Homo sapiens: one gene and its partners. The protein of the gene in region 4 purifies or fractionates together with the protein of the main gene of each other region. This does not show direct contact. Each region holds a gene or a part of one and is shown on either strand. Other genes may lie near its edges.

Region 1 (8,068 bases), on a different chromosome or scaffold from region 4:
TGCTTTGAAAATGTACCACAGAAATTAATTTTTAAAATTACATTGTTGATTCCTTAATTAGGCTTAAAAGTATATTAAGACTTCAGATTCTCTTGGTTTCTCAAATTAAATTACAAGAAATCACTGGGGAGGCCAGGCGTGGTGGCTCACGCTGGTAATACTAACACTTTGGGAGGCTGAGGCAGGCGGCTCACTTGAGGTCAGGAGTTTGAGACCAGACTGGCCAACATAGTGAAACCCCATCTCTATTAAAAATACAAAAATTAGCTGGGCATGGTGGCGGGTGCCTGTAATCCCAGCCAGCGGGAGGCTGAGGCAGGCGAATCGCCTGAACCTGGGAGGTGGAGGTTGGAGATTGCAGCACTCTGGCCTGGGTGATCAAGCAAGACTCCGTCTCAAAAAAAAAAAAAAAAAAAAAAAAAGAAATCACTGGGGAAAAGAAAAACATGAGGTCAGAAAGAAAGCAAAGCCAGTATCAAAATTGGCGGAGAAGCAGGCATTTTCCAGAGGCTTATTTTAGATGTCTAACTTACGAAAAAGATGAATCGTAACTGTTTAATGACCAACCTCTAGAGTAAAAGAAAGAAGCGGCCGGGAGCTGTGGCTCAGGCCTGTAATCCCAGCACTTTGGGAGGCCAAGGACGGCGGACCAAGGATGGTCAGGAGATCGAGACCATCCTGGCTAACACGGTGAAACCCCGTCTCTACTAAAAATAAAATAAAAAAAAAAAACAAAATTAGCCGGGCATGGTGGCGGCTGTAGTCCCAGCTACTCGGGAGGCTGAGGCAGGAGAATGGCGTAAGCCCGGGAGGCGGAGCTTGCAGTGAGCCGAGATCGCGCCACTGCACTCCAGCCTGGGCGACAGAGCGAGACTCCGTCTCAAAAAAAAAGAAAAAAAAATAGAAAGTAGCAAAAAGCCATTCAAAAATTCTATTTGGCTCAGGAATACCTTTTTAGTCTTCTATTTGCATACACTGTTTCTAAGGTGGTTCACCTACAACTATAGTGACCACAGCTTACATTTTGCCAAAACTTTTCTATTCTAGGAACTGACATACAACCCTCAGACCTAATGAAACAACCGGAACTGATCTTCTCCCTCCTGCATCCCAGTTCTTATAGCAGGGCCAAGTCTTCATTTTTACAGAGGCTGAACTGAGCCTCTTTCTCAAGGTTTTGACTTTAATGCATCTAGTTCAGTTAATAAGGGATGAGAAAGACGGGCGTGATGGTTCACGCCTGTAATCCCAGCACTTTGGGAGGCTGAGGCAGACGGATCACCTGAGGTCAGGAGTTCAAGACCAACTTGGGCAACATGGTGAAACCCTGTCTCTACCAAAAAATACAAAAATTAGCCGAGTGTGATGGCAGGCACCTGTAATCCCAGCTACTCAGGAGGCTGAGGCAGGAGAATCATCTGAACCCGCGAGGCAGAGGTTGCAGTGAGCAAGACAGTGCCACCGCACTCCAGCCTGGGAAACTCCATCTCAAAAAATAAAATAACGGGTCAGAAGTGCCTGCATAAATCCTCATTCCTTAATACCAATAGAATGAAATTGTATAGGAAAATACAAATGTCCCCAGATGAAATGCTGAATATGCAATTATTTCCCTGGGCTCTAGGAAAACATGGCTCTGACATAAAGCGGGCAAGAAACCTGTAATTTCCCACTTCCCTTAGTTCTAGTCCAACACTGCAGGGACATCATATACTTAACTACAAGTAGGGACTGGAAAATAGAATCCAAGACAAGCTAAAGCATTTAACTGTGTAGCTGAAACATGGCCCAGTGTCAGAACAGGAAAACATCTGGCCTAACACTATCGAGACGCAATTTTTTTAAAAAAAGACAAAATTATCTATTTTGCACCCAGGAGGATGCTAAGCAGGCTGTAAAACTTAAGTTCCCCGGACTTCCTTAAATTCTGGTTGGGGAATGTGCTGCCTCTTAGACGAGGGGCCCCAGCTGTGGCGGGCGGGAGGGCTCGAAAGCCTCGGACCGCTGGAGCTGGCACCGCACGCGCGGGAAAAGAGCCTCGAGTCGCGGGTGAAGCGCCCGGCTGCCCCTCCCACGGGACACTGGAGGAGTTAGGGCCCTCAAAGCACGAAGCAGTCCAGTGACAAGAAAAAGGCAGGCCGGGAGTAGGGAGTCGCGGGTGAAAGAGCCCCCAAAGAACCCAAATGAGAAGAGCGCCACTAGGCGCCGACGCCCACGGGTAGGGCCGGAAACTGAGCGCCGCACGCGAGGGAGGACGTGAGCGCACAGGTGGGAGGGACGAAAGGCGCGCAGAGGAACGCGGGAGCTTACGGGTTTGCCGAATGGAAGCGCGAGAGAAACGGCGGGAGGACAGTGGGGTGGGCGGGGCGAAGGTGCGCACGGAAGGAAGGGGCGGGCGGAGCGAAGGAAGGCGACAAAGGGCGGGAGAGGCGCGCGGTAGGCGAGGCGAAGAAACTGGAGAACGTGAGGGAGCGGCGAGGGGTGGGCGGGGCGAAGACGCGCGAGAAAGTGTGGGGGCGCGCGGGCACCGAAGCGCGCGCCGGCGTGGGACGGGGACAGCGGGGCGCGCGCGAGCCCGGCAAGAGCAGCCGGCGGCGCGCGGGCCTAAGGGGACTGGGCAGTGCCCAGAGCCCGGCGGGGCGGGGCGCGAGGGGTAAGGGCGGCCCACACCCCCGCCCTGCCCCCTCACCGTGGCCTTGGCCGTGAGCACCAACGCCTCCTGGTTGATGCTGGACACCTCGGGGGAGCTCTTCATGATGACCCGGATGCGGGATAGAGGCAGCGAGATGAGCCGCTGCTCCCCGCCCTTGTCTTTACCCACGACCACGTCCGCCATCTTCCCGCCCGTCGCGCGGGTGCCCGCAGCCGGCGGGCCCGACCGCGAAGTGGCTGCCCTGCCCGGCCAGCTGGTGGGTACGGGGAGCCGCGCCCGCTGCCCCGTGGGAGTTGTAGTGTGGGGAGGCGAGGCCGCGAGGCCGGGAGCGGCCCGTCCGGGAAACTACGAGCTCCGTGAGGCCTCGCGCCCCCGATCTGCGCATGCGCCGACGCTCGGACACCGCCCCCGAGTGCGAGGCCCGGCGCGGAACCGGCAGCCGAGAGCCTGGCGGGGGCGGGGCGCACCGCGCCGCTCCCGGGAGTCTCCGGGCTGCGGTCGCGGAATACGACTTTGATCCGCGGGTGAGGGCTCTGTGAATGGGCAAGCAAAGCCCTCTGACTCCGGGCCTCGTGGCTGGGTGCTGTGTGTTAAGCGCCTGCGCTGTACTAGGACCGGGCGTGCCGCCGTCGGCAAAAAGTGACGCTTTCTTGAAGCACAAAGTCCAGGGGGGACGACCAAGCGGACAGCGGATGCGTCCTGCGCCGGTAGCCAGGCGACCGGTGGAAGAGCAGAGTCCAGCGCGGGCGATGCGGCGGGGCCAGGCTTGCTGCGCCGCGGGGTGATTGGGAGAAGAGCCTTCCTGCGGGGTGGAGGACGAAGAGCTGCCCTGAGGAGGTCCCGGAGTCTGGTGGGAACGGCCTCTTCGGGACTGCTCCGAGAGACGGTGTGCAGAGCCTGGCGTGCTCGCCGAGGTCTGACAGGCAGCCCGGGGCTAGGTCCTGTTGGATTTTTTTTTCTAAGGAAAATGGGAAGTGGTGGTAGGGTTTGAGCAGTGGAGTCCCGGGCAGTTTTAAAAGGATCCCTGCAGCTGCCGGCTGGGAGGGCGTGGGTGCGCGTAAGGCCGGAATCACAGAGACCAGGTAGAAGATGATTACGAGAACCCAGGAACGTGGCCCTCAGGAGGCCGGCAGTACCAAGGGGACAGCAGCTGGGAGGAGAGAGGCAGGAGATGGTCAGGGGCCAGACCAGGGAAGGCCGCGGAGACCGCAGAATTCGCTCTGAATGAGTGGGGAGGCCCTTGGAAGAGTAAGGGGTCCAACTTAACTTTTTTTTTTTTTTTTTTTTTTGACACAGAGTCTCGCTCTGTCGCCAGGCTGGAGTGCAGTGCGATCTCGGCTCACTGCAACCTCCAACACCCCGATTCAAGCAATTCTCCTGCCTCAGCCTCCTGAGTAGCTGGGATTATAGGCACGCGCCACCCAGCTAATTTTTTGTATTTTTAGTAGAGACGGGTTTTCACCATGTTGGCCAGGATGGTCTCGATCTCCTGACCTCGTGATCCGCCCGCCTCGGCCTACCAGAGTGCTGCGATTACAGGCGTAAGCCACCGCGCCTGGCCACCAACTTAACTTCTGCCAGGATCATGGGAAGTGGTAGGGTTTGGGGTCTGATTTCAAGAGGGAGCTGCTGTGGAGTATCAGCACAGCTTACTGAGATATCAGAAAGGCCTTGGTAAAGAGCCCTTTACTGAGACAGGGAGCACATTTTGGCAGAGGTTTGAATTGGAGCGTGTTAAGTGTAGTGTCTTCTTCACCACTGTGACGTGAGGTCCTGGCGCAAATAATTGAGCACAGAAATACATGTCAGGCATTGCTAGGCACAAGGGTACAGCCAGTGAGCAGGGCTGCCATGGTCCCTGCCCTCTTAGAGCTGACCTTCAGGTCTGAGGGAGACTGAAAAATAAGTAAGAATACCTCCAGCCGGGCGCTTTGGCTCACGCCTGTAATCCCAGCACTTTGGGAGGCCAAGGTGGGTGGATCACCTGAGGTCAAGAGTTCGAGACCAGCCCAACCAATATAGTCAAACCCCATCTCTACTGAAATTATTAAAATTAGCTGGGCGTGGTGGTGGGCACCTGTAATGCCAGCTACTCGGGAGGCTGAGGCAGGAGAATCGCTGGAACCCAGGAGGCAGAGGTTACAGTGATCCGGGATCGCGCCACTGCACTCCAGCAGCCTGGGCGACAGAGGGAGACTCCATCTCAAAAAAAAAAAAAAAAAAAAAATACACCTCCAATGCTGAAAGCTACGAAGGAAACAAAACCATGTGCGAGTGATAGGGCAGCCCCTCTGGGAAGTGACATTTGTGCCCAGATCTGAAGAAAGAAAAGGAGCCACTCATACAGAAAGACTGAGACAAGATGAGCTTTCGGGACAAGTCAGGCTCTAGGGAGAACACCTGACGAGGAAAATGCCTGGGCAGTTTGAGGAACTGAAAAGCCAGTGTGTCTGGAGCTTAGTGAGGGAGGCAGAGAGCACGGGAGGTGTGGTTACCAAGGTAGGTGGGACCGGCTCTGGCCCTGGGTAAAAAGTTTGACTTTCATTCCAAGAGTAATGGAAAATAATGAAGAATTTTGAACTCGAGGTGGTGCATGCCTGTAATCCCAGCACTTTGGGAGGCTGAAGCAGGCAGATCGCTTGAGCCCAGGAGTTTGAGATTAGCCCGGGCAGCATAACAGGGCAGCATCTCTACAAAAATTTTATTTTTGGCCGGGCGCGGTGGCTCACACCTGTAATCCCAGCACTTTGGGAGGCCGAGGGGGGGCAGATCTCCTGAGGTCAGGAGTTCGAGACCAGCCTGACCAACATGGCGAAACCCCGTCTCTACTAAAAATACAAAAAATTAGCCGGGCATGGTGGCACGCGCCTGTAATCCCAGCTACTTAGGAGGCTGAGGCAGGAGAATCGCTTGAACCCGGGAGGCGGAGGTTGCAGTGAGCCAAGATCACGCCACTTGCACTCCAGCCTGGGCAACAAGAGAGAAACTCCATCTCAAAAACAAACAAATCCAGACCAGCCTGGCTAACATGGCAAAACCCCCTCTCTACTAAAAATAGAAAAATTGGCTGGGCATGGTGGTAAGCACCTGTAATCTCAGCTGCATTGGCGGCTGAGGCAGGAGAATCACTTGAACTCAGAAGGTGGAGGTTGCAGTGAGCACAGATCACACCACTGCACTCCAGCCTGGGCAACAGAGCAAGACTCTCAAAAAAAAAAAGTTTTGAAGGGAGCAGATCCACTTTAAAAGCTCACACTGGTTCTTGAGTGATGACCAAATGGCACTGTGCCTTATGCAGAGCCGACTCCTGGCAGTTTGCACAGGCTGGAGGTGGAGCTGCAGACTCCCTCTCCCTCTCGGCCTTGCCTCTGTAAATGGGAAAGCCGTTGACATTCACAAAAGAGGGGCAGGGAACTGCTACACAAGAGCAGCTACACAAGAGGGTCCTTTGGTCCACACAGGAAACAAGCCATAGTGATGACATATTTTGAAGCTGTTAGATGTTTTGTTTCCCTAGCTGGCTATTATTTTTGTATGGCTTGTCTTTCTCTTTTGAGTATGTGTGAGAACAGGATGGGTTAACATTAGGGAAGAGCACAGAAGAGGAAGGAAGGAAAGAAGGAAGGGAGGGAGGGAAAGGAGAGAGAATAGGGATGAGAAGCTCAGCTTGTAGAATTGGCAGGTGATGTTTGCAGTCATTAATCATTTGAGAAGTAGAGAGAGAAGCCAAGCAGGAAATCTTCATACTGGAAAAGAAGTGCTCACCATTAAAAAAAAAAAAAAAAAAAATCCAGTGTGGTTCACAGCTGTAATCCCATCACTTGGAGGCTGAGGCAGGAGAAATACGTGAAGCCAGGAGTTTGAGACCAGCCTGGGCAATATAACAAGACCCACATCTCTACAAAGAGAAAAAAAATGTAAAAAAAAGAAGCTTTAAACCTAAGACGGCAGAATTCAAGACTGTTGTCCTTGAGAACTTCCTGGCTCTGGAAAAAGCTCAGTGAGTTAGTCTCATCCTGTCGTTAGCTCTGTTTTTTAGGGGCTCACTTTGTCTTCACGACAGTACCTTGCACCATTCTCATGGGTATCCCAGGGTGGTGCAAGGCAGTTTTCTGCACTTCCCAGAATGCCCTGTCAGCTGGCTTCTGGGTAGGTTCTGCAAATTGGAGGCCCCTGTGAAAGATCGCTGTGGGGTGGGAGGAAGAAGCTTTATCTGCCTGCTGGCTGCAGGGTAGAGGACTGCAGTGGGGTTATAGGGATCACCACCTGCACATGTGGAGCTTTGAGCGGCTTCACTCTAAGTTTCTGCTCAACAGTGGCAGCCCTGGAGTCCTTCGGGGGCGAGTGTGGGCTCCTGGGCTCCAGGCCAGGGGCAGTCCCAGCTTCCTGATCTCGAGGTAGCGTCTCCTCCCTTTTGCTCCATAGCACCTCGCCCTTCTCAGTGACGTGCCTCCTTCTCAGTCATGCGCCTCCAGCTCTAACAATGTCCTTGAAAACAATTCTTGACCATGCGCCGTGGCTCACGCCTGTAATCCCAACACTTTGGGAGTCTGAGGCAGGCGGATCACTTGAGGTCAGGAGTTTGAGACCAGCCTGGCCAACATGTAATCCCAGCTACTCCCTCCACTTGATTTGTGTTCCTTGAAGAAATTTGCATAATCCCTGTATCTGGTTGGCAGATAGCAGAGATGTAGCCTCAGTCTTTCCTTTAAAAATTTTGCTTTAGGCAGGGCGCGGTGGCTCACACCTATAATCCCAGCACGTTGGGAGGCCAAGGTGGGCAGATCATGAGAGCAGGAATTTGAGATCGGCCTAGCCAATATGGTGAAACCCCGTCTCTACTAAAAATATAAAAATTAGCTGGGCGTGGTGGCACAAGCCTGTAATCCCAGCTATTTGGGAGGCTGAGGCAGGAGAATCGCTTGAATCCAGGAGGCAGAGGTTGAGATGAGCCGAGATCACGCTATTGCACTCCAGCCTGGGCAACAGAGGGATACTCCATCTCAAAAAAAATTTTTTGCTTTAGGGCCAATCGTGGTGACACACGCTTGTAATTCTGGCACTTTGAGAGGCCGAGGCAGGTGGATAATTTGAGGTCAGGGGTTCGAGAGCAGACTGGCCATGATGGTGAAATCCCATCTCTACTAAAAATACAAAAAAAGCCAGGTATGGTGGCATACGCCTGTAATCCCAGCTACTCGGGAGGCTGAAGCAGGAGAATCACTTGAACCCGGGAGGTTTAGGTGGCATTGAGCCGAGATTGCACCACTGCACTCCAGCCTGGGTGACAGAGCGAGACTCCATCTCAAAAAAAAAAAAAAGGGCCGGACGCGGTGGCTCACGCCTTTAATCCCAGCACTTTGGAAGGCCGAGGCGGGTGGATCACCTGAGGTCAGGAGTTCAAGACCAGCCTGG
Region 2 (7,083 bases), on a different chromosome or scaffold from region 4:
GCCTAATCATTCTGCTAGTGATTTCTTGAGCCTGACTCAGTTAAGACCATATCTGTCCCCGTTCCCACTGTGCCCTTTCCCTTCCTCTCCCTGGAATGGTGGGGAAGAGAATTAGATGGGCTTTGGTCAGCAACCTGGTGTTCCTGGTCCTGCGTGGCCGTGAGACACTTTGTTCTGTGTTCTTAGCTGTAGCTTTAAGAGGACAGGTGTGCTGAGGTGGCAGCTCCTGCCTTCAGGGCACAGGCAGGGACTGTAGCTAGGTGGGCTAAGGCTAGGTGCCCATGTGGTCCTCATGGTCAGGGGAGGGTAATGGGGGAGGTCTGAGAACAGTCTTGACTCCACCTGAGCTCAGGCTCAGAGAGGAGGTCTGGACACCCTCACTGCCTTGGTGTGCCACCTTGGTGTCATAGTGTCAAGCTCTGGAGCACCATTGTCCTTGTCTGAGAGGTGCACGTGGGTGGAATTGGGTGTTGGACTGGGCACAGCACCCAACACGCAGCAAGTGCTTCGTAGGTCTTCTGCGGACTGAATCTCATGCCTCACTCAGGTCTCTGTCTCCTTGCTGCTGCACCTGCAGCTTCTCCCCGTTCTTATCCTTGTCCCTGCTCAGTCTCAAGTGGCTTCCATTGCCACCTCCCAAGGGCTGCCCTAAGCATTGTCTCAGGCCCCTACAGCCTGGCTTGGGACTGCCCTACCTCTCCTGTGCCCACATTCACCCTTTGTCTTAGAAGTCCCACCTGCCCTTCAAGCTTGGGTGTCTCTAAAATTCCCCTGCCTGCTGCCTTCTGGACTTGCTGAGCCCTGTTCCCAGCACCTGGGCAGCTGCAGGAAGTGGGGGCAATAGGGTGATTGGCAGAGGACCCTCCAGGAGGTTCCTCTGCAGAGTTACTGGGGGTGAGGCCCAGCCTCTTTGATTGTTTGCTTCCAGAGCAGGAAAAGTCCTGGTCTTGGTTAAAGCAAGTGTGGGATTCTCCCATTCGTCTGATAACCCCTGAGAACATTGTTGTGTCCATTTCTGAACAGAAGGCTGTTGGGAGCAAGGAGGCTCTGGGAGACCCAAGGGCCTTTCAGGGGGCTGGGTGGTGGCAGTGGTCTGCTGTTGGTATGAGGAAGCCTGGCTTGGGTGGGAGCTGGGGCCCTGTGAATACCTGAAGCACAGATGGGTCTGACAGTTGGGGAGAGGCAGCTATAGGCATCCAAAGATGATGACCATGTGGCTACACTGTTGTCACTAATTGTTGGGCAATTCTCTCCCCGCTGGGCCTCTCTTTCCCCACTTTTAGAATATGGGGCAGGGGGTCATGAAGGAATCTTTAGGGACCCTTACACTTTTAAAAATGTCTGAAACTCCCACATCGAGCCCTGGTGCTGTTTCTTCCTGTAGGGCCTGGCGACTGGGCACTTGTGTATCTCAATCATCCTGGGACCTGGCCAGGGAATCTGCCCAGCCCTAGGCATGCGGATGGTGTGCTCCAGGCCAGCCCTGCCAGCATGTGGAGGCGTGGACCTGGCCACCCTCCATGGGATTCAAGGCAGGCACAGCTGTGATGGAGCAGCTCGTCTTTGGGGATGCCAAGCGAGCATGCTTTGTGGCTTAGCAGGTGGATCCAGAGGAAGGCCAGGCCCAGTGCTGGGAGCCCCTGGGCCCCTGGGGGTGCCTGGCACCACCTGAGCAGGACCGACTGTATATGATGTCTGTCCCTGTGAACTCCATACTGACTCCACAGGGGGAGTCTGGGCCCTGCCTGGTCTCCCAGGAGCTTGCGGCCCTGGATGAGCCGCTGCCTGTCTGGGCCGTGATAGGTTAATGATGATGCCTGTTACCTTGGCCCAGTGCTCTGTGAGCCCCCAAGGTCAGGGAGTGGTGTCCCTGTGCCCTTGTGTCTGAGCATCCGGCCCAGGTCCATATAGGATTCCTGCTAGGTCTCCCCTGTCACTTAGGGACCACAGTCCCTTCCTTTGAGGGAGGAGATCAGTTTCTTCTTTGTCAGTTTTGGGCATCCCCCAGTCAGTCAGACCTGCTTCCCCACATAGGTGGACCAGATGAAACTGTTACACACATCGGGGGTAAGAAAGATTTGGTTTCTTCTCAGACAGTACACCAGCTGTTTGAGGTGGTGGTGGCTGGTGGCCAGGGCTGGCCAGGACTATGCAGGCTTTGACAGGTAAAGCATTGGCCTTAGACCCTGTGTTGTCCAGTGTTCAGAGTGTGGCCTCTGAAGCCGAACTCTGGAGCAGGAGAGGGCCCAATGTGGCTGCCTAGCTGCCTCCTTGGGCTCAAACCCTGCTGTCCCAAGCTGGGCTCTGCTCTGCTGTGGGAGGTGGATGGAGAGATGGGGACTGAGTGGCAGGCAGGCTCCCCTTGCCACCCTCAGAGCATTGCAGGCCAGGGTTAGGGTTAGGAGGAGGTCACTGGGGGCCCAGCTTCTTTTTTAGAAGCTACTGTGTTTTAAAAAATCATACATTCACTTTAAGAACAGCAGAAAGTGGAGAGAACAGTGTCAATAGGACCTGTGTAGATGGCGCAGGACAAATGTGGGGAGCACTGGGTGTTTCTCTCTGCCAGCTCTTCTTCCCTTGTGAGTGTGTGATGTGTACAAGACACCATCAAACACAGGGGAAAGGCTTTGTGCATCTGTAATAGTTGTTTTTTGTTAAAGTTAGTTTGTTGCTACTCTGAGATACATAAAAGCAGGTTTAATTCAAGTAGATAAAGACAGGAAGGTTTCTGTGGATCCAGAGGTTCTGTGGTACTTCTAACTTATACTGTTGTGTTACTATATGAAATAATTGTCATGGTTTGCTTTTTATAGTTGGCTTTTTACTTTTTAATTTATTATTATTATTATTTATTTATTTTGGTAGAGTCAGGGTCTCACTGTGTTGCCCAGGCTGCTCTTGAACTCCTGGGCTTGAGCGATCCTCCCGCCTTGGCCTGCAAAGTGTTGGGATTAGAGATGTGAGCTACCACGCCTGATCTATAGTTTGCTTTTTTTTTTTTGAGACGGAGTTTCGCTTTTGTTGCCCAGGCTGGAGTGCAATGGCGCGATCTTGGCTCACCACAACCTCCGCCTCCCAGGTTCCAGCGATTCTCCTGCCTCAGCCTCCCTAGTAGCTGGGATTATAGGCATGTGCCACCATGCCCGGCTAATTTTTTTTGTATTTTTAGTAGAGATGGGGTTTCTCCATGTTGGTCAGGCTGGTCTCGAACTCCTGACCTCAGGTGATCCGCCTGCCTTGGCCTCCCAAAGTGCTGGGATTACAGGCATGAGCCACCACGCCCAGCCTTTTTTTTTTTTTTTTTGAGACGGAGTCTTGTTATGTTGCCCAGGCTGGAGTACAGTAGCTCGATCTTGGCTCACTGTAACCTCTGCTTCCCGAGTTCAAGTGATTCTCATGCCTCAGCCTCCTGAGTAGCTGGGATTACAGGTGCGCGCCACCACACCTGGCTAATTTTTGTATTTTTAGTAGAGACGAGGTTTCTCCATGTTAGCCAGGCTGGTCTCGAACTCCTGACCTCGGGTGATCTGCCTGCCTCAGCCTCCCAAAGTGCTGGGATTACAGGCGTGAGCCACTGCGCCTGGCTGCTTTACTCATTATTTACTTATTTATTTATTTATTCATATTATTATTATTATTATTATTATTATTTGAGACAGAGTCTAGCTCTGTTGCCCAGCGTGGAGTGCAGTGGCACGATCTCGACTCACTGCAAACTCTGCCTTCCAGGTTCAAGCAATTCTCCTGCCTCAGCCTCCCGAGTAGCTGGGATTACAGGAGCCCACCACCACGCCCGGCTAATTTTTGTATTTTTAGTAGAGATGAGGTTTCACCATGTTGGTCAGACTGGTCTCAAACTGTTGACCTCAGATGATCCACTCGCCTCAGCCTCCCAAAGTGCTGGGATTACAGGCGTGAGCCACCGCGCCCAGCCTTTACTCATTTTTTAAAGCCACCTTCTTTGTTGGATGTTTCCACATAATCAAAGGTGGAGAGAGTAATAGAGTGAGTCCATGTATGCTCCTGCCCTGCACCTGCAGTTTGCAGCTGTGGCCGGTCTTGTTTCTACCGCAGTTCATCCTGTGTAGCTGTGTCTGTAAGTATATCAGTTGTTTTGCTAAGAAAATAGAATCTTTTCTTTTTTTTTTTGAGATGGAGTCTCACTCTGTCACCCAGGCTGGAGTACAATGGCGCGATCTCGGCTTACTGCAAGCTCCGCCTCCTGGGTTCACACCATTCTCCTGCCTCAGCTCCCCCCCGCCCCCCCGCAGTAGCTGGGACTATAGGCGCCTGCCACCATGCCCAGCTAATAGAAAATAGAATCTTTTCTTACAAAACTTAACCATTGTTGAACTTTCACACCTAAGAAACTAACAAAAATTCTTTAGTGTCATCTGTTGTCCAGTCAGTGTTTGGATTTCCCCAGTTTGGCTCATAAATTTCATTTTACAGTTACTTTGTTTCTTCAGAAGCCAAGCAGGATCTGCAGGTTGCATTTGGTTGAAGGCCTTCTCAATTTTTTTTTTTTTTTTTTTTTTTTTTTGGAGACAGTCTCGTTCTGTCGCCCAGGCTGGAGTGCAGTGGCGTGATCTTGGCTCACTGCAATCTCTGCCTCCTGTGTTCAAGCAACTCTCCTACCTCAGCCTCCAAAGTAGCTGGGACCATAGGTGCACACTGCCACACCTGGCTAATTTTTTGTATTTTAGTAGAGGCGGGGTTTCACCATGTTGCCCGGGCTGGTCTTGAATTCCTGAGTTCAGGCAATCAGTCTGCCTCGGCCCAGCAAGGTGCTAGGATTACAGACCTTGTCATTTTAAAGACAGCGCCATGTGTGGCCTGTCCTGTCCCCTTTCATACTGCACTGGCATTAGCCCTGGCTACTCTATTTTTATGCTGTGGAGGGTGCCGGTAGGCGGAGATTCCCACTTTATCTGCCCCTGCCAGACACCTTACTCTTGTCTTTCTCTTTTATTTCCTTTTTTTTTTTTTGAGACGGAGTCTCACTCTGTTGCCCAGGCTGTAGTGCAGTGGCGCGATGTCTGCTCACTGCAACCTCTGCCTCCCGGGTTCAAGCGATTCTCCTGCCTGAGCCTCCTGAGTAGCTGGGATTACAGGCGTGCACCACCACGTCTGGCTAACTTTTGTATTTTTAGTAGAGACAGGGTTTCATCCTGTTAGGCAGGTCTTGAACTCCTGACCTCATGATCTGCCTGCCTCGGCCTCCCAAAGTGCTGGGATTACAGGCGTGAGCCACTGTGCCTGGCCTCTCTTTTCTTTTTTAAAATATTAGCCAGGGGCCGGGCGCAGTGGCTCACGCCTGTAATCCCAGCACTTTGGGAGGCTGAGGCAGGCGGATCACGAGGTCAGCAGATCGAGACCATCCTGGCTAACACGGTGAAACCCCGTCTCTACTAAAAATACAAAAAATTAGCCGGGCTTGGTGGCAGGCACCTGTAGTCCCAGCTACTTGGGAGGCTGAGGCAGGAGAATGGCATGAACCCGGGAGGCGGAGCTTGCAGTGAGCCGAGATCGTGCCACTGCACTCCAGCCTGGGCAACAGAGCGAGACTCCGTCTCAGACAAAAAAAAAAAAAAAGTAGCCAGGGTGCCTCCTTCAGCTGATGCATCATGGCTTGGCTCTTGCATTGCTGCATTGTCATCACCTATTCTGGTTCATCTGTCGCCCCAGCCTTTACTGTGGAGCTCTGCCCACCTGAGGTGATGTTGTCATCTAGTGGGTGTAGATGCCAAGCCCTTCTAAACCAGAAGGGAGGAACTAGTATTGTCACTGTCCTACCATTGAGGGTGCTGAGGTCATAGTGAGGACCACTCATACTCTTACTAGCATGGCAGTGGACTCAGCCATTCTTGGCTTGACTTCTGTGACCTGGAGCCAGTCTCTCCCCTCTCTGGGCCTCAGTTTCCTTGTTTTAGGCCAGTGCATTCCTGACGCCCTTGGAGGTGGATCAATTTCTCCCTCTAGTGACAGCATCATGGCGGGCTCAGGCCCAGGACGCAGCTGCTTTGCAGGCATGTGTTGCCTGCTGCCTGGGCTCCCCATCTGCTTTGCTCTGCCCTTCTTCCTCACACCCATGTTCCCTCAGTACCACCCTCACAACATGCTGGGGTGTAAGGGCTGGTTGATGACAAGCATGTCCATAAGCCTAGGGGATTCCTTGGGTGTCCTAAAATGTGACCTAAGATAATTATCGGGGAACATGCCCCGATATTCACGTAAGTTCTTTTCATTTTCCTTAAGTGTCGGCCAGCTTGAGAAATAAAGGGACAGAGTACAAAAGAGAGAAATTTTAAAGCTGGGCATCCGGGGGAGACATCACATGTCGGTAGGTTCCGTGATGCCCCACAAGCCGCAAAAACCAGCAAGTTTTTATTAGGGAGTTTCAAAAGGGGAGGGAGTGTGCGAATAGGTGTGGGTCACAGACATCAAGTACTTTACAAGGTAATAGAATATCATGAGGCAAGTGGAGGCAGGGCAAGATCACAGGACCACAGGACCGAGGCGAAATTAAAATTGCTAATGAAGTTTCGGGCACCATTGTTATTGATAACATCTTATCAGGAGACAGGGTTTTGAGATCAACTGGTCTGACCAAAATTTATTAGGCGGGAATTTCCTCTTCCTAATAAGCCTGGGAGCGCTATGGGAAACTGGAGTCTATCTCACCTCTGCAATCTCGACCATAAGAGACAGGTATGCCCCAGGGGGGCCAGTTCAGAGACCTACCCCTAGGTGTGCATTCTCTTTCTCAGGGACGTTCCATGCTGAGAAAAAGAATTCAGTGATATTTCTCCCATTTGCTTTTGAAAGAAGAGAAATATGGCTCTGTTCTGCCCGGCTCACCAGTGGTCAGAGTTTAAGGTTATCTCTCTTGTTCCCTGAACAATTGCTGTTATCCTGTTCTTTTTTTCAAGGTGCCCACATTTCATATTGCTCAAACACACATGCTGTACAATTTGTGCAGTTAATGCAATTATTACAGGGTCCTGAGGTGACATACATCCTTCTCAGCTGACAGGATTAAGAGATTAAAGTAAAGACAGGCATAGGAAATCACAAGGGTAT
Region 3 (7,171 bases), on a different chromosome or scaffold from region 4:
GTCATCTACACAAAAACATGAAATCATGTAGTTTGAAGCACCATAGATGGAACTGGAGGTCATTATGTTAAGTGAAATGCCAGGCATAGAAAGACAAATAGCACATATTCTCACTCATAAGTGAGAGCTAAAAAAGTGGATCTCATGGCAGTAGAGAGTAGAATGATGGTTACCAGAGGCTGGGAAGGTTGGGGGTAAGGAGGATGAAAAAGGTTGCGTAATGGGTACAAAAATACAATTAGATAGAGGAAACAATTTCTAGTGTTCGATAGCACTAGAGGGTGACTATAGTTAACAATAATTTATCATATATTTCAAAATAGCTAGAAGGCAAGATGTGAAATGTTCCTAACACAAAGAAATAAACAATGTTTGAGGTGATGGATATCACAATTACCTTGGTTTTATCATTATACCTTGTACGCAAATATCAAAATACCCCATAAATATATGCTTATTATGTATGTATTAATTTAAAAAGGAAATAAAACCATAATATTGCTGAACATTACACAAAAGCAACAGAAAAGGGAATTCTCTGAAATTAGAAAAGTTTTCCCAAAACCTGTGAGAAAGCAAATAAGCATAGAATAAGAAAGTAAAAATCTGCTTTGCCATTCATCAGCTATGGGATAACAGGCATAAATAAAGCCAGCTGTGAAATTAACAGAAAATACTATTTCTCTCTGGAAGATGCTTTAAAATGTCTCAAACACACACACACACACACACACACACACACACACACACACACCCTTAGAGTAACTGATTTTTTACTCACACAATGCCCTTTTCTCTAAAATCATAGAACATTTATGACAATATCAAAAGATTGTCAAAAACTCTGCTGTTTAAATCCTATTATTAAGATTGAAATATCTCACTCTTGGCTAGAATATCTAAAGTCACATTGACACAGAGAAATAGTTTCTACTTCTGAGAGGCAGAACTTTGCAATTTCCAAAAAACAGAACCCTGGGTCCATCTTGTATTACGTTGGTGCAAAAGTAATTGCAGTTTTTGCCATTAGTAATAGTTTAGATGTAGTGTAGAATTCTTTACAAACAGCCTTGCTTTCTTTTGAGTCTATCAAAGCACTACTTCATTTCAATTCCTTCTAAACTCCATACTTCCCCAAATTCCTACAATAAATCTATCTCTTCCTCTGTTGGTGAGGTACCCCATGGTTCTTCTGGAATGTGGGCTCCCTCCTTGCAATGAGCCAGTAAACCTGATGATATGGTCTGCTCTGTGTCCCCACCCAAATCTCACTTCAAATTTTAATTCCCATGTGTGCAAGGAGAGACCTGGTGGGAGGTGATTAGATTATGGGGGCAGTTCCCCCATGCTATTCTTGTGATAATGAGGGAGTTCTCATGAGATCTGATGGTTTTAAAAGTGGCAGTTTTCCCACGATCTCACTTCTCTCCTGCCACCGTGTAAGATATGTCTTGCTTCTCCTTCACCTTCTGCTATGATTTAAGTTTCCTGAGGACTCCCCAGCCATGTGGAACTGTGAGTCAACTAAATCTCTTTCCTTTATAAATTACCCAGTCTCGGGTATTTCTTTATAGCAGTGTGAAAACAGACTAATATACCTGACTTTCTTGGAATACAGTTTTGTTCCTGATAAACTTAGGCTTATTGGGCTAAGAAGCCTGTCTCATATTAGTTCAGGAACACCAATTTCACATAAAAATGAGCAATAACTCACGCCTGTAATCCCAGCACTTTGGGAGGCCAAGGGGTGGATCACGAGGTCAGGAGATCGAGACCATCCTGGCTAACACGGTGAAACCCCGTCTCTACTAAAAATACAAAAAATTAGCCGGGCGTGGTGGCAGGTGCCTGTAGTTCCAGCTACTCGGGAGGCTGAGGCAGGAGAATGGCGTGAATCCGGGAGGCAGAACTTGCAGTGAGCCAAGATCCCGCCACTGCACTCCAACCTGGGCAACAGAGCAAGGCTCTGTCTCAAAAAAAAAAAAAAAAAAAAAAAAAAAAGAGCAACAAAAAAAGCATCAAGTTCAAATCCATGCAGTTATTATGTGAAGAGAATAAGGAATATAACATCATCATCAAAGATAATAAAAACATGCCTGAAAGATGCACTACAAAACAATTTATTATTTTGAAACTAGCTAAATGACATTAGAGAAATGATAAAAGATATGGAAGAACTTGATTCTGAATTAGAAAAACCTCAGAAATGAGGTGACAGAACTCAGGAGAATTAGTAATAAAGAATAAACTACAAGAAACACAAAAGCTAATAAATGCAACAGATTATGATTTGCTGTAAAGAAACCGAGTCAATCCTTAGATCAATGTTTCTGTAATAATTCTGATTGTCAGACACTTTCTCCAATTAATTATTAAGGAGGGGCTCATGAAAACACTAGTCTCACCAAATTGATATATCAATTGTTGATAACAGTTTGTACCTTTTGTATATTAGTTTTGCTGAATGTAAAATCTTTGGCCTACATATTTTTCCCTTAAGTTTCCTCAATATGTCATTCTACTTTCTTATGACATAAAGCCTCACTGTCAAAAAGCTGTGATCGCCTAGTTTTCTTTCCCATTTTACATATGTGACAAAACATTAAAATCTGTTAAATCTGGTTGCTTGTTACATGCCTGAAATAATTCACACCATATTTTATCAAATCTAACATGCCCTCAATTTTAAGATGCATCGTTTTCTGTATTTATTTTTTAAAAATTCATCCTCTATTCATGGATGTTAAAATATGAAGAAGCGTGGGTAATGGCAGGCCATTGTTTTGGCCTAGCCTTCTACACTAGGCCCCATCAGATCAAACCAGAATGGAGTTGCTTGTGCTAAGCACCATGTAATTAAAGTGGATTTTGAAAAAATGAGCCAGTTTTTTTTAAAAAAACAGGAGATTCTAGTTAACCTAGTGGGCATAATAAGGAAGTATGCTCTGTTTTAACCTTTACAAGGAAAGAAACTTTGAAATAATCTGATTTTTGTTCTGTTTCTGCTTTCTTCAATCTTTTTCATTATCTTCAGTCCTGTAGCATTATCTTAGTGCTAGAGCAGAGCCTTGAAAGAATAGAACACAGATCAAGAACATTTTAATGTGGAAAAGGTTCACAACTGGATTGAGGAACACGGATAATGCTATAGGTGAGCAACATAAAGCTTCCAGGTATTTTAAGATGTGCAATTTTGAAGAGAATAGAGGGCACGAAGGATAATACAGTTTTGCCTGGACCCTCATCTCCATATGAGAGGAAAAATTTCTAATTAAAAATATGATACATCACAGAAAATTACATAATACCCAAAGTATATGCTAATTTTAAAAATCCTGCAGATGTTTATTCAAATATACAGTGTTATTTAGTGAAAGACAAATCCTAATGTTATTGTGTCCAACTCATTTTTGCTTTCTAAGAAAGGTGACACGGAAGTAAATGAAAAAGAATTATATGAGAACTTTTTAGATATGTGTTCTGGTAATCTAACAGTGACTAGCTCTATAACCTTGACCAAGTCACTTGCACTGACCGGAAGTTCCTTTCCCTTACCCACAAATTTAAGGGACCAAACTGGATGATCTAACGACATCTATGGCACTAAAAGTCACATGATTCTATTAAATCTGAGGCAGCGCCTCACATGTAGTGGACTCCCAAAATTATTTATTAAATGTATAACATCTTTAAGTGGTATCCCCTCACTGACAATCTGGAGCTATTAGCAGCCTTCAGTTTATTTATAAAATAAAGCTGTTTCCTCTTCTTACCGTTAAGACTCTTTTAAGGATTTGCAACGCTATCCCATCATTTCGCGGGTTACTAGAGTCCTGCATGTTTGGCTGTAGAGCAAGGGTGACGCGTAACTTCTGGACTTTGGTTCCATCTACATCTGCCGGATGCGGATGCCAGTCGCAACAGTAACGCCCCCTTCGGCCACCTGCACCACAGCACGCCATGCGGCCACACCCAAACCGGAAACCAGGACGCCCCTAGGGTTGACGGGAAGGCGCTGCCGGGCTCCTAGCTTCCCCAGGCCCGCCCCCTCTGATGACGTCTCCGCCCGCCCCTTGACCCCCCCACGGTCCCGCCCCTTCCTACCTTCCAGTAGCCGGCGGCGGTGTCTCAGGCGGCAATGGAAGGATCCGAGCCTGTGGCCGCCCATCAGGGGGAAGAGGCGTCCTGTTCTTCCTGGGGGACTGGCAGGTGAGAGGACGAGAAGGGCGAAGGTGAGGGGTCGCGGGTGGGACCCAGGCTCCGGGTTTCTGCTTCTTTCTTTCCGGCGGGCTGGGGGCGCCCGAGAGGCCGCGGGGCCGAGCAGAGCCGGCCCTGGGAGGCGAGGGGCGCGCGCGGAGTGGGTGTGGCGACGTGGGCTAGGGCCTCTGCTGTTGCCGGCTTTCCTGAGGGAAAAGTCCCCTTTCCGCACCTTTGAGGGCTTTCTCAGTTCTGGCTGGGATTCGGGATCCTCCTTCCTCCAAGTCACCAGACTTGGGGGGCTCCGGTCGAGAGCGAGTTCTGGTCTCGGTCACTTGGCGTGAGCTTCCCCGACTGGTGCCAAGCACCTTTCCTCCTTTCCGTAAAAAGAAAGCTAGGAGCGCCACTGTGCACCTCCACTGAGATCCTCTTTTGAAAACTATTACCAGAAGGAACTTGGTAAGAATGAATCAGTAGCAATCTGGACACCCTGAGGCCTTTGTTGACTTCGGAAGAAGGAAAAAAAAAAAGCCAGGAAAAAAAAATACACAAGTTACCCATTCTTATTTCCCACTTGGTTTTGAAGTTCTTCAGGTCTTTCCCGCCCCTGTAAAATTAGGGGGAAAATATTTGTGCTAGGCCTTTACCAATTTCTTGGTTAGTAGTTCCTCTTTCAATCATCTCATAATTAATAAAGCAAGTGGTTACATTCTATCCACCACTGTCAGAATACACCATGCCAAAGATAGAATTGATGGATGTATTATTTTCAGCTGATGTGAGACTTTGTAAACCTGTAGCCTTTTCGCCAGTTTCAGACTGAAGGGATGCTTTCAGTTTCATGGTGTTGTCTGCCATTGCCAACACTGCCAGAGTGGAGGGATATTATGTAATATAACCCGCGCCTTATTTGAAGCGTTTTTGATTGTCTTATAGATCATATTATTTTTACATATTTTTGAAACATTCCAGTGAGGCACAACTTTCTGAAAAGGGCCAGTCACGCCATTAAGTGGCAGAGCTAGTTAGACTGCAGCTGTTCTCGTTTTTATTCAGATTTACCCACCAGGCCTATTGCCCCCGCCATGCAAGGAAAACAGCAAGTGAAAGTGTACTAGGGATAAAATGATAGGAAAGTAGATAATAAAAAACTTTGGCCGGGCGCAGTGGCTCAAACGCTTGCAATCCCAGCGCTTTGGGAGGTCGAAGCAGGCGGGTCGCTTGAGCTCAGGAGTTCTTAGACTAGCCTGGGCAACATGGCGAAACCGCGTCTCTACAAAATACAAAAAAATTAGCTGGGCGTAGGTGATGCACGCCTGTAGTCCCAGCTACTCGGGAGGCTAAGATGAGAGGATCGCTTGAGTCTAGAGAGATCGAGGCTGCAGTGAGCCGAGATCGTGCCACTGCACTCCAGTCTGGGTGACAGAGAGAGACCCTGTCTCAAAAAAAAAGAAAAGAAACAAATTTTGTTAATTTTTATATTTTGTTACAATGCCCAAACAGGGTATATTGTGTATGTGTGTGTTTTTTATTAGGTAGGTGATCTCTTAGAACACAGCTATCTTCTGATTTGCCTTGGTAATTGGAATCAGTTTTTTTAATAGCTATCCGTTTAATTAGCTAGAAGCTGGTATCATTTGATATGTGCCAGTGTTTGGTGAGATAAATGATAACATTTTAATTACCTTTGTTTACAAATTCTTTGGCTTATTTATCAATGCTAGGACTAGAAAGTTGGATTCCAAGCCTGAATTTGATGCCATCGCATTGTTTTTAGAATCTTTTAATTGACAACTAGAGCTTCTCAGAACTAGGAATGGCCTCCACTTCTGCCAGTATATTGATCTCAGCTCTCACAGTGGTTCAGCTCCAAATGCTCCAGACTGGTTCCCTGTACCTGGGAATTATCTCTGCTTGCCAGTGTTTAGTACAGATACGTTTTTTGAAGGCCATGCTGTGAAAATGGGACGAGCACTGCTATAAATAATATGTTACTATAATAAGTATACTTTGTCAGATTTGCATATTTAGATTAGTTTTTTTCCTTTAAAATTTATTCATTTAACAGGGTTTTTTTGTTTTGTTTTGTTTGTTTGTTTTTTGACAGAGTCTTGCTCTTGTCACCCAGGCTGGAGTACAGTGGTGGGATCTTGGCTCACTGCAGCCTCCTCCTCCCGGGTTCAAGCGATTCTCCCACCTCAGCCTCCCAAGTAGCTGGGAATACAGGCGCCTGCTACTACATCTGGCTAATTTTTGTATTTTTAGTAGAGACAGGGTTTCACCACGTTGGTCAGGCTGGTCTCGAACTCCTGACTTCAGGTGGTCCGCCTGCCTTGGCCTCCCAAAGTGCTGGGATTACAAGCATGAGCCACCGCGCCCATCCCATTTAACAGGTTTTTTTAAGTGTTTCCTTTATGTCTAATATCAGAAACAGTAGGCAGTATGTGTGGTAGTCAAGAGCTAGACTGCCTGGGTTCAGATCCTGGCAGTGCCATTTGCCTGCTCTGTGACTTTGGGCAAATTTTAAGTTAACCTCCCTCAGCCTCTTTTTTCCATCTGTTCGTTGGAGATAGCAATAGTGCTTGCCCACTGTTTGGACAAGGTTGTTGTAAGGGTTAACTGAATAAGTACATCTAAAGCACTTAAATATGTAGCACAGGGTTATCTATTATTATTAAATGCCTGGTACTGTTTTAGGTATTTGGAATACAGTAGTGAGTTTTTAACAGACCATACATTTTTTTGGTAGTAGTGGCAGACAGTTAACGGTAAGTGATTTGAAGAAACTGACAGGTTAATGAGTTAGGCAGCAACCTAAGGATAAGAGTAGCCATTTTATTGATAGGGTGATCAGGAATGAGGTGTGTGGTATTTGTGACACAATATTTTAATAGAGGCTTAAGTGACAAGAAGTCAGCTATTCCGAGATTTTAAGAAAGAACATTCTAAGCAGAAGAAATAGGTAAAAACTCTG
Region 4 (7,083 bases):
TTAAGTGTGCAGCTACATGGCATGCCAAGGGACAAGATGTCTGTAAGTTTCGCTGCAAACCAGGATCTCAACCTTGCCAATGAGGTGGGGGAGGCCAACGGCTCATCTGGCCTTCCTGAGCCAATTCAGAGAGGCCCAGCTCTGTCTCTCAGCTTTCCTGATGGGAGGCCAGAGAACTTTGACGTGGTTCTTGACCACAGGCTTGGCCTCCACTCTGGCTGGGAAGGAATCCACAGCTTTTGGAGGAGGCTCAGATGGTGGTCCAGAACCTTGTTTTTTTCTCCTGCTCCCCACAAGAGGCCCCTTCTCCAACCATTCCAATCTATGGTAACCTCCCCTTCTTCAAAAATTCTACATGATTTACTGTCCATATGACTGAAAATAGCATTTCATACATCCAACATTCATTTCTTTTTTAACTATTTGATAGCTCAATATCCATCTCCCCAACTAGAATGGGAGTGCCTCACCACAGGCCATGTCTGTGTCTTGCACCAAGGCTGGCATAGAGTAAGTGTTCAGTAAATATTTCTCTAGTGACCCTCCCTTTGGGCTTAATAAGATTAAGCAAACACCATGCTCTCAAACGGGAGAGTGTGGAACAATTAATGGAAGTGTGGCATCAACACAGTGAAGAGGAATATGAGAACTGACTGGAGGGAAGCTACCTATTTTGGTGAAAACAGGGGACACAAACAACTAACTCTATCTATCTCCCTGATATGACAGCATGATAGAGTGAAAACTTATGCAGGCTTTGCAGTCAAACGTGGATGCAAATCCGAGCTTGTTAGCAGTCTGACCCTGAGCAAATACTTACCTTCTCTTAAAGACACAGTTTCTTTTTATATAAAGATATATAATGGGCATGTATCTACTGCTATTTTTTAAACTAGGAAATCAGAATTGCATCAAAGTAACTTTTAACATGCCTACTTTGCTAAGCCATGGTAAATAAGGGTGAAGTAAAATAATGTATAGAAAACTTCAAACACAGTATCTGGCCCATAGTACGCATGTCATGACTGTTGATTCTTTTTCCTACCCATCCCCACTGTTCAGCCTCTCTCTCTGATTTTCTCTCACTTTAGAAGGGCTATTGTTTGCCTTAGAGGCAAAATGCCGTGGTTGTTAAGACTTTTTCCTTCCCTGCTAATCCATCTAGGATTCAATCCACAGAATTTGGAGGATGAAGGCAAAGGACAATGGACTGAGCCAAGATAGAGGGGGAAGGATATGTCTAAAGACAGCCAGTACAGGAAACACTGTCTGCTTGGTGCACTTCTGGGGAATGGCTTCATGTTGGCTTGCAATTTTGCTGCCCATCGGATCTCCTCCCACCTCCTCCACCTCACCCCTATCAATCATCCCTTTTCTCTTCTGTGTCTTCAACCTCTTCTTCTTTACCATCTACTTCTTAGCCTATAAATATGTTCAAGTCTGTCCTATTTCAGAAAGACACCTACCCAATACACCTCTCTTAATTTCCTGCTTCCTTTTTAGCTACTTTTGCCCTATTGACATCTTTTCCTTCATATCCAAGCATCAGAAAAGAGGGATGCCCCTTATTTATCACCATCCATTCATAAGAGTGGCTCCCAGACAACGTATCTCTATTTTTCTCCATGTATTTTTGCAAATAAAAAAAAAAGCCTGTCTGCATACCAAAGTATTGGTTAATGAATTCTGCTCATTTCCTAGATTTTTCTTGCAGGTCAGCTAAGTGATCCGCTGGAATGTCAATAACTGCAGACACAGAAAGGCAGGAGGAGTGTAATTTTCCTTCAGACAGAGCGAACTTCTCCCAGTCTCATACTTTCAATGGTTGTCATTCTTTATAGGCAAAAACTAAGAGATATCCTTTGAGTTGCATAGTAAACAAGTCTTGATGTAACCAGTGTATCTTGACACCACATGGTAGCAACGTGCATAAACAGAAGTAGCTCTTGGCAGAACTCCATTTAGGAATTTAAGCTGTGGAAATTGCAACTAAAAGTGATAGTTGGTAAAAGGGTTACTTGAGGGAGGCAAACATTGAGATGATGCCTGAGATGGTTCCATAATAGTACACAGAAAGGAACCTCATTAAATAGGACCTGAATGTCTTCAGGATATTATGAAGTTCCAAGAACTTGCATTTCACAACATCCTTCTGTGGCCTATATACCTCATCACCTACATTGAGAAGGAGTTTAGGTACAATATCCTTCTATCCAGTTATACCCTTTAGGTATAGCAAGGTTGCAATTTATTCTCCAGACTCCATCATCCTATTGTTTTATACACTGAGCTCCTGCTCATGTAGGACTAGTGAAAGGGTTCTGAAACTTGCTTTAGAGACACAACATACAGATGATGCACAGAGAACCACAACAACTATTAATAGTTACTACTAATAGGTGGTGAAAGACCTACAATTCTACTTGAAGCCCACTTGTCCAGTTGTGGGATGATACAGATGACAGTGTCCATAGAGCAGCAAAGAAGCCTTCTTGCCCCCATGAAAAATTCATCTTCTCCCTTTAAAATTTGTCTCATTTATGCTCACTTTATAAGGAGTTTTTCTCCTCACTGGTCTGAAATTACATTTAAATTGTTATGACAGGTAACTCAGTAAAGAGGCAAGAGCATAGTTGCTTTTTGTGTTACCATATTTACTCAAATGAACTTCCAAGAGAAAATAAGGTTGGCATATCTCTCTGTTTTTTGTACAGAAATATTCATAGCATCTTTATGTGTAACAGTAAAAAATACTAAAACCAACCCCAATGCCCTTTAGTGGGTGACTAGATGAACAAATTTTGGCATATCCTTATCATAAATTACTACTCACCAGTAAAAACAAAACAACTATTGATACACAGAACACCTTGAATGGATCTTAGATTAATTTGCTTAAGGTTAAATAGCTAATCTCAAAAAGGTACAGTGTATTTTTTTGTTGTTTTTTCTAAGTAAATCTGTCAAAATTTGACTAAAATTCAGGACTCCAAGCTAGAGCCAGGAGCACAGATCCATGGAACTTTCATTATAAAGTTTTCTTTATGTGAGGTGATGAATACGTTAATTTACCTGATTGTGGTAATTATTTCACAATGTATATGTATATCAAAACATCACATTGAACACCATAACATACACAATTTTTATTTGTTAATTATATTTCAATAAAGCTGAAAAAAAAAGAAAGGAAGGAAGGAAGGTTAACTTCTAAATTGGTCTACACAGTAGGCTTTGTAAGTGAAACAGTGGATCACGTAGAAGTATGATGAAGGAGGTCAAGGAGACAGAATGTGTAAAATAGAAAGTTACCTGGGGACGTTTCCACACCACCTTTCCAGGAAGCAGTCGGTTGTAGAAAAGAGAATCATTCTCAGGCAGAAATGTTGGATCACAGAAAAGTCTGCTGTCTTTGATGCATTCCTGCTTCAGTTCCTGGTATTTCTGGTTTTTGAAGAGCTTCAGAGGAGGACCCATAGTGTTGAACTATGCCTAGAATGAGGAAAATTTTTGTCTTTGAAGGAAGAATTTCTCAGGTCTTTTAAGGGTTACCTGAGATTAGACAAACAGCCGTCATCCCAGTGACTTCTTCCCAGAGCTAGGCACTTCTAGTTTGGCTTTAAAGGAAATGTCACCATTTTCAAAGAAAGAAGTGTCCACACTCCGCAACTAATTAGTATGGGGCCTTGGGTAAGGCACCTAACCATTTTGGGTCTCAGTTTCTTTATCTGTCAAATGGGGCAATATGGGCCTTAATCTTATTGGGGAAAAATCAATAATAAAAGTAAAGATTGTGAATTAAATGTGATTCATTATAATTTAAAGAGAAGTCTTCCATTTACACCAGCAGGGAGTAGTTCAAGGCAGAGAACAACTTGAAGATAAGGGAAAAATCACTTTACTGTAGTCAGAATAATTTGGTGCCCTGGAGAGTCGCACACTTTGTGCATGAGGGGAAAAGCAGCCTCTTTCCATTCCAGCAAGTCTTTTTACACAATTTCTTCCGTCTTGTCATTTAAAGAGCTTTGCATTTTTTATTATTGGCCAGGAAGACTACTGCAAGAAACAGCTCAGCAGATGGCCTCCAAAGACAAGGAAAGACAGAAAGATTGTATGGTCTTTCTTCTTAAAAGTCTAATGTATAATCCTTTGCCTGTGATAAAAGGCAGACTCTGAAATTCAATTACACTAATTTGGTGGGCTATAGATTGTTATCCCATGGCAATACACTCTTGCTTTCTTTTCTTTAAAAAAAAAAAAAGGAGGAAAAACAAAAACCTTACATGGCTAAACAGAGAATTCATATAGTGGCTCTTCAAGCAATGTCTATCAGAGTGCCCCACACTCAAGTGCTCTTAACAACTGGTTTTTAGGAAGATAATTTGAAAGGCAAATTTGATTTTCAATAGCTTTGGGGTGATAATAGGGTTTTCAGTGCTTTTTCTTGATTCACAAAGATTTGTAATGATTTTAATGATCCTCTCCTGGCATTCAACAGTAAATAAGAATGAGATTGTGAAATTTACATGGTGTCAACTATTTCAAAATGTATTTTAGAAATAACTAAAGTCTATATTCTATAATCACAGGAGGGTTGAAACAAAAAAAACCTGACTAAGCTACAGAATGTCTGCTAAAAAATAAGGAGAATACGTTAGCACTTTAAGGAGTATCTGTGTGGTATATCTGTGAGGCAGTCGCTGTTTTATAAAAAGTGAAATATTGATCAGACCTCTCTACTAGTTCATTTTATATCCTTTCAGTATCACATTGAAATGCCTCACTGGTAAAGAAGTTTCCCCATTTGAAAACCATAACAATTTTTAATTTAAATGTTTGCAATGTTATTACAATGTTATTTGCAATGTATGTACAACAAACTTACCCTTTCTCTGAATCCAAGGAATAAGAAGCTGAGAATAACCACATTTTTTTCATAGCCTTATTTATTGGCAATTGCTTTTAAAATTGAGAGCTGTGGGGACACTGCAAAATACTGATGTCCCTTTTTTCATCAGATTTGTCTGCTCATGTGTTTTAAATATTAAAGTGTACTTCATTGTATTTGAAAGCATGGATGGTATCAGTAAAAATTTTTAGTTATGCAGCATCAGAGCCAACCTGAATGTTTGCCCAGACTCCTTTCTGGAGGCTGTTACAAATGGATCCCAATTTTCTTGTGTGCTCAAACTTACAACAAACACTACTGCGCCTCTTGCTTTCCCTAGAAGGTTTGGTGAATTGCCAGAGCCTGGGGACTGTAAATGTGGAAAAGCCTGGGGCAATTAGAATATTTAGTTTGCCAGAACCTCCTAGTCCCTGGACATTCTGGATAAATGAGTATTTCCTGTTCTGCCTTCAAAGGTCTTCCTTACTACTCGGTCAAATGGCAAGGCAGGCAAGATCCTGCAAAAGGAATCCCTGTTATAAAGAGGGCCTGTGTACAGACAGAAGTAGCACCAATTGAAAGGAAAATCAGGTTTGATTTTTAAAGCCCATGTGATCCCAATAGACTCTTTCAGAGGCAGAATGTACAGCTCACATGGATAGATTACAGCTTGACGGAACACCTTTTGGGTCAGGGTGCCTGTGTTCTGGGGACACACAGTAAATAAAGAAGAGCAGACTATGAGCCTGAACTTCCACTACAGTACAACTGTAGTCCCAAGTCCTCTCGGACTTGGAGAGTAGAAGTGACCTTCATGTGGAGGTTGCAGTGAGCCGAGATCGTGCCATTGCACTCCAGCCTGGGCAACAGAGCGAGACTCCGTCTCAAAAAAAAAAAAAAAAAAAAAAAAAAGTGACCCGCATTTCTGACTGGGCAACAGAACTGTGATCCATTTGCTCTGTGACCTTGTTCTCTTTGTGCCTCAAATTTTTCATCAGGAAAGTGAGGTTATCTACCCTGCCCCTCTTACACCATGGGTGTACCTAATGAGATGGTTGGTGTAAGAGGAATTTTGAATAAGTAGAAAGTGATCCATAAATGCAAAATATACACTGAAGCCCTCTCATTGCCTAGCATTGAGCTGGGCACACAAATATTGTTCAGAAAATGTTTGTTGAACAGATAAATGTCTTATGTGGAGAATTAGTGATTGCATGGCAATTTCTTGTTTGAAATGTGCATTTTACATTTTAGTTCGGGTTCTCATCATAGCAGTCATGTTTAATGAGATTATCTGTGCCCTTCATTTTGTATCTGCAGAAATGGCAGCTCAGAGAAGCAGTAGCTAGAAAATGGCAGAGTTAACTCAAATCCAGGTTCTGTGCAATGCCAGATTCAGTGTGCAGCTTTCCATCACACCACACTGCTTCTTTTGGTCACTGCCTTCTTAGAGAAAGGATTTTTTAGTTCAAATGAGGAAATCCTCCAAAGCAAACATGATACTCAACTTTGAGGCATTCTGCCTAGAATTTATTGCCATGGTAGACATTGAAAAGGTTCTTTATTTTCATGGTTTGATGTTCATGGGAGAATCTGAACTCTTTACATCGGCGGGTTCATCATTTAAACATCAGAATACTTTTGGAAACCCAGAAATTTGTAAGTTGAGTTTGTCATAAACAACTTACTCTGTTGGAACGGATGAGTGCAGAGAAGGGAACACTCCCTCCTTTCTGTTCTATTGCACCCGATGGCGATGGGGAAGGGAGAGCCCTTACGTTAAAGATCACATATTAGGAAAGTCGGGAGACAAGATAAAAGTTAGGGCTTTGAGTATAAACCCAGGGATTTGAATATAAACCAAGGAGAGCCTCTAGCTAACAAAGGCAATGTGGACATTTGAGAAGAGGGACCCTGTGGCCTGAGGGCTAGTGGAATGAGCGGTTGGGTGAGGCAGAGTGTGGTGGGGCTTAGCATTGAGGTAATGGTCTTAGGCAATATTATTATAATTCAGATCCACCACTTTGAGAAAGAATATGAGGACAACCGTGTCTGCCAAGGCAAAGGATAGGAGCGGGCCCAGAGTGCAGAAAGTTGAGAATTGCCAGGGAAGTTGAGGGAGACTGCCACGTAGAATACAAGGCTGCAGTTTAAAGAGAGAGGTATTTTTTTTCTACTCACTGGACTGGAAAGCT

What was found.
Region 1: the proteins of CAPN6 (region 4) and CHRAC1 purify together in Homo sapiens (affinity purification with mass spectrometry; 2 studies listed by BioGRID and IntAct, with this or other methods). This does not show direct contact.
Region 2: the proteins of CAPN6 (region 4) and BICD2 purify together in Homo sapiens (affinity purification with mass spectrometry; 2 studies listed by BioGRID and IntAct, with this or other methods). This does not show direct contact.
Region 3: the proteins of CAPN6 (region 4) and UBA6 purify together in Homo sapiens (affinity purification with mass spectrometry; 2 studies listed by BioGRID and IntAct, with this or other methods). This does not show direct contact.

The regions. Positions count from the first base shown.
Region 1 is NC_000008.11:140,506,268-140,514,335, reverse strand, and holds the start of CHRAC1 (chromatin accessibility complex protein 1), read right to left. Parts: upstream 3,015-8,068; 5' UTR 2,837-3,014; coding exon 2,690-2,836; intron 2,341-2,689; exon of another isoform or gene 2,311-2,340; intron 1-2,310. UniProt on the Homo sapiens protein: Forms a complex with DNA polymerase epsilon subunit POLE3 and binds naked DNA, which is then incorporated into chromatin, aided by the nucleosome remodeling activity of ISWI/SNF2H and ACF1.
Region 2 is NC_000009.12:92,754,773-92,761,855, reverse strand, and holds part of BICD2 (protein bicaudal D homolog 2), read left to right. Parts: intron 1-7,083. UniProt on the Homo sapiens protein: Acts as an adapter protein linking the dynein motor complex to various cargos and converts dynein from a non-processive to a highly processive motor in the presence of dynactin.
Region 3 is NC_000004.12:67,698,087-67,705,257, reverse strand, and holds the start of UBA6 (ubiquitin-like modifier-activating enzyme 6), read left to right. Parts: upstream 1-4,102; 5' UTR 4,103-4,138; coding exon 4,139-4,209; intron 4,210-7,171. UniProt on the Homo sapiens protein: Activates ubiquitin by first adenylating its C-terminal glycine residue with ATP, and thereafter linking this residue to the side chain of a cysteine residue in E1, yielding a ubiquitin-E1 thioester and free AMP.
Region 4 is NC_000023.11:111,260,460-111,267,542, forward strand, and holds part of CAPN6 (calpain-6), read right to left. Parts: intron 3,493-7,083; 5' UTR 3,478-3,492; coding exon 3,313-3,477; intron 1-3,312. UniProt on the Homo sapiens protein: Microtubule-stabilizing protein that may be involved in the regulation of microtubule dynamics and cytoskeletal organization. May act as a regulator of RAC1 activity through interaction with ARHGEF2 to control lamellipodial formation and cell mobility.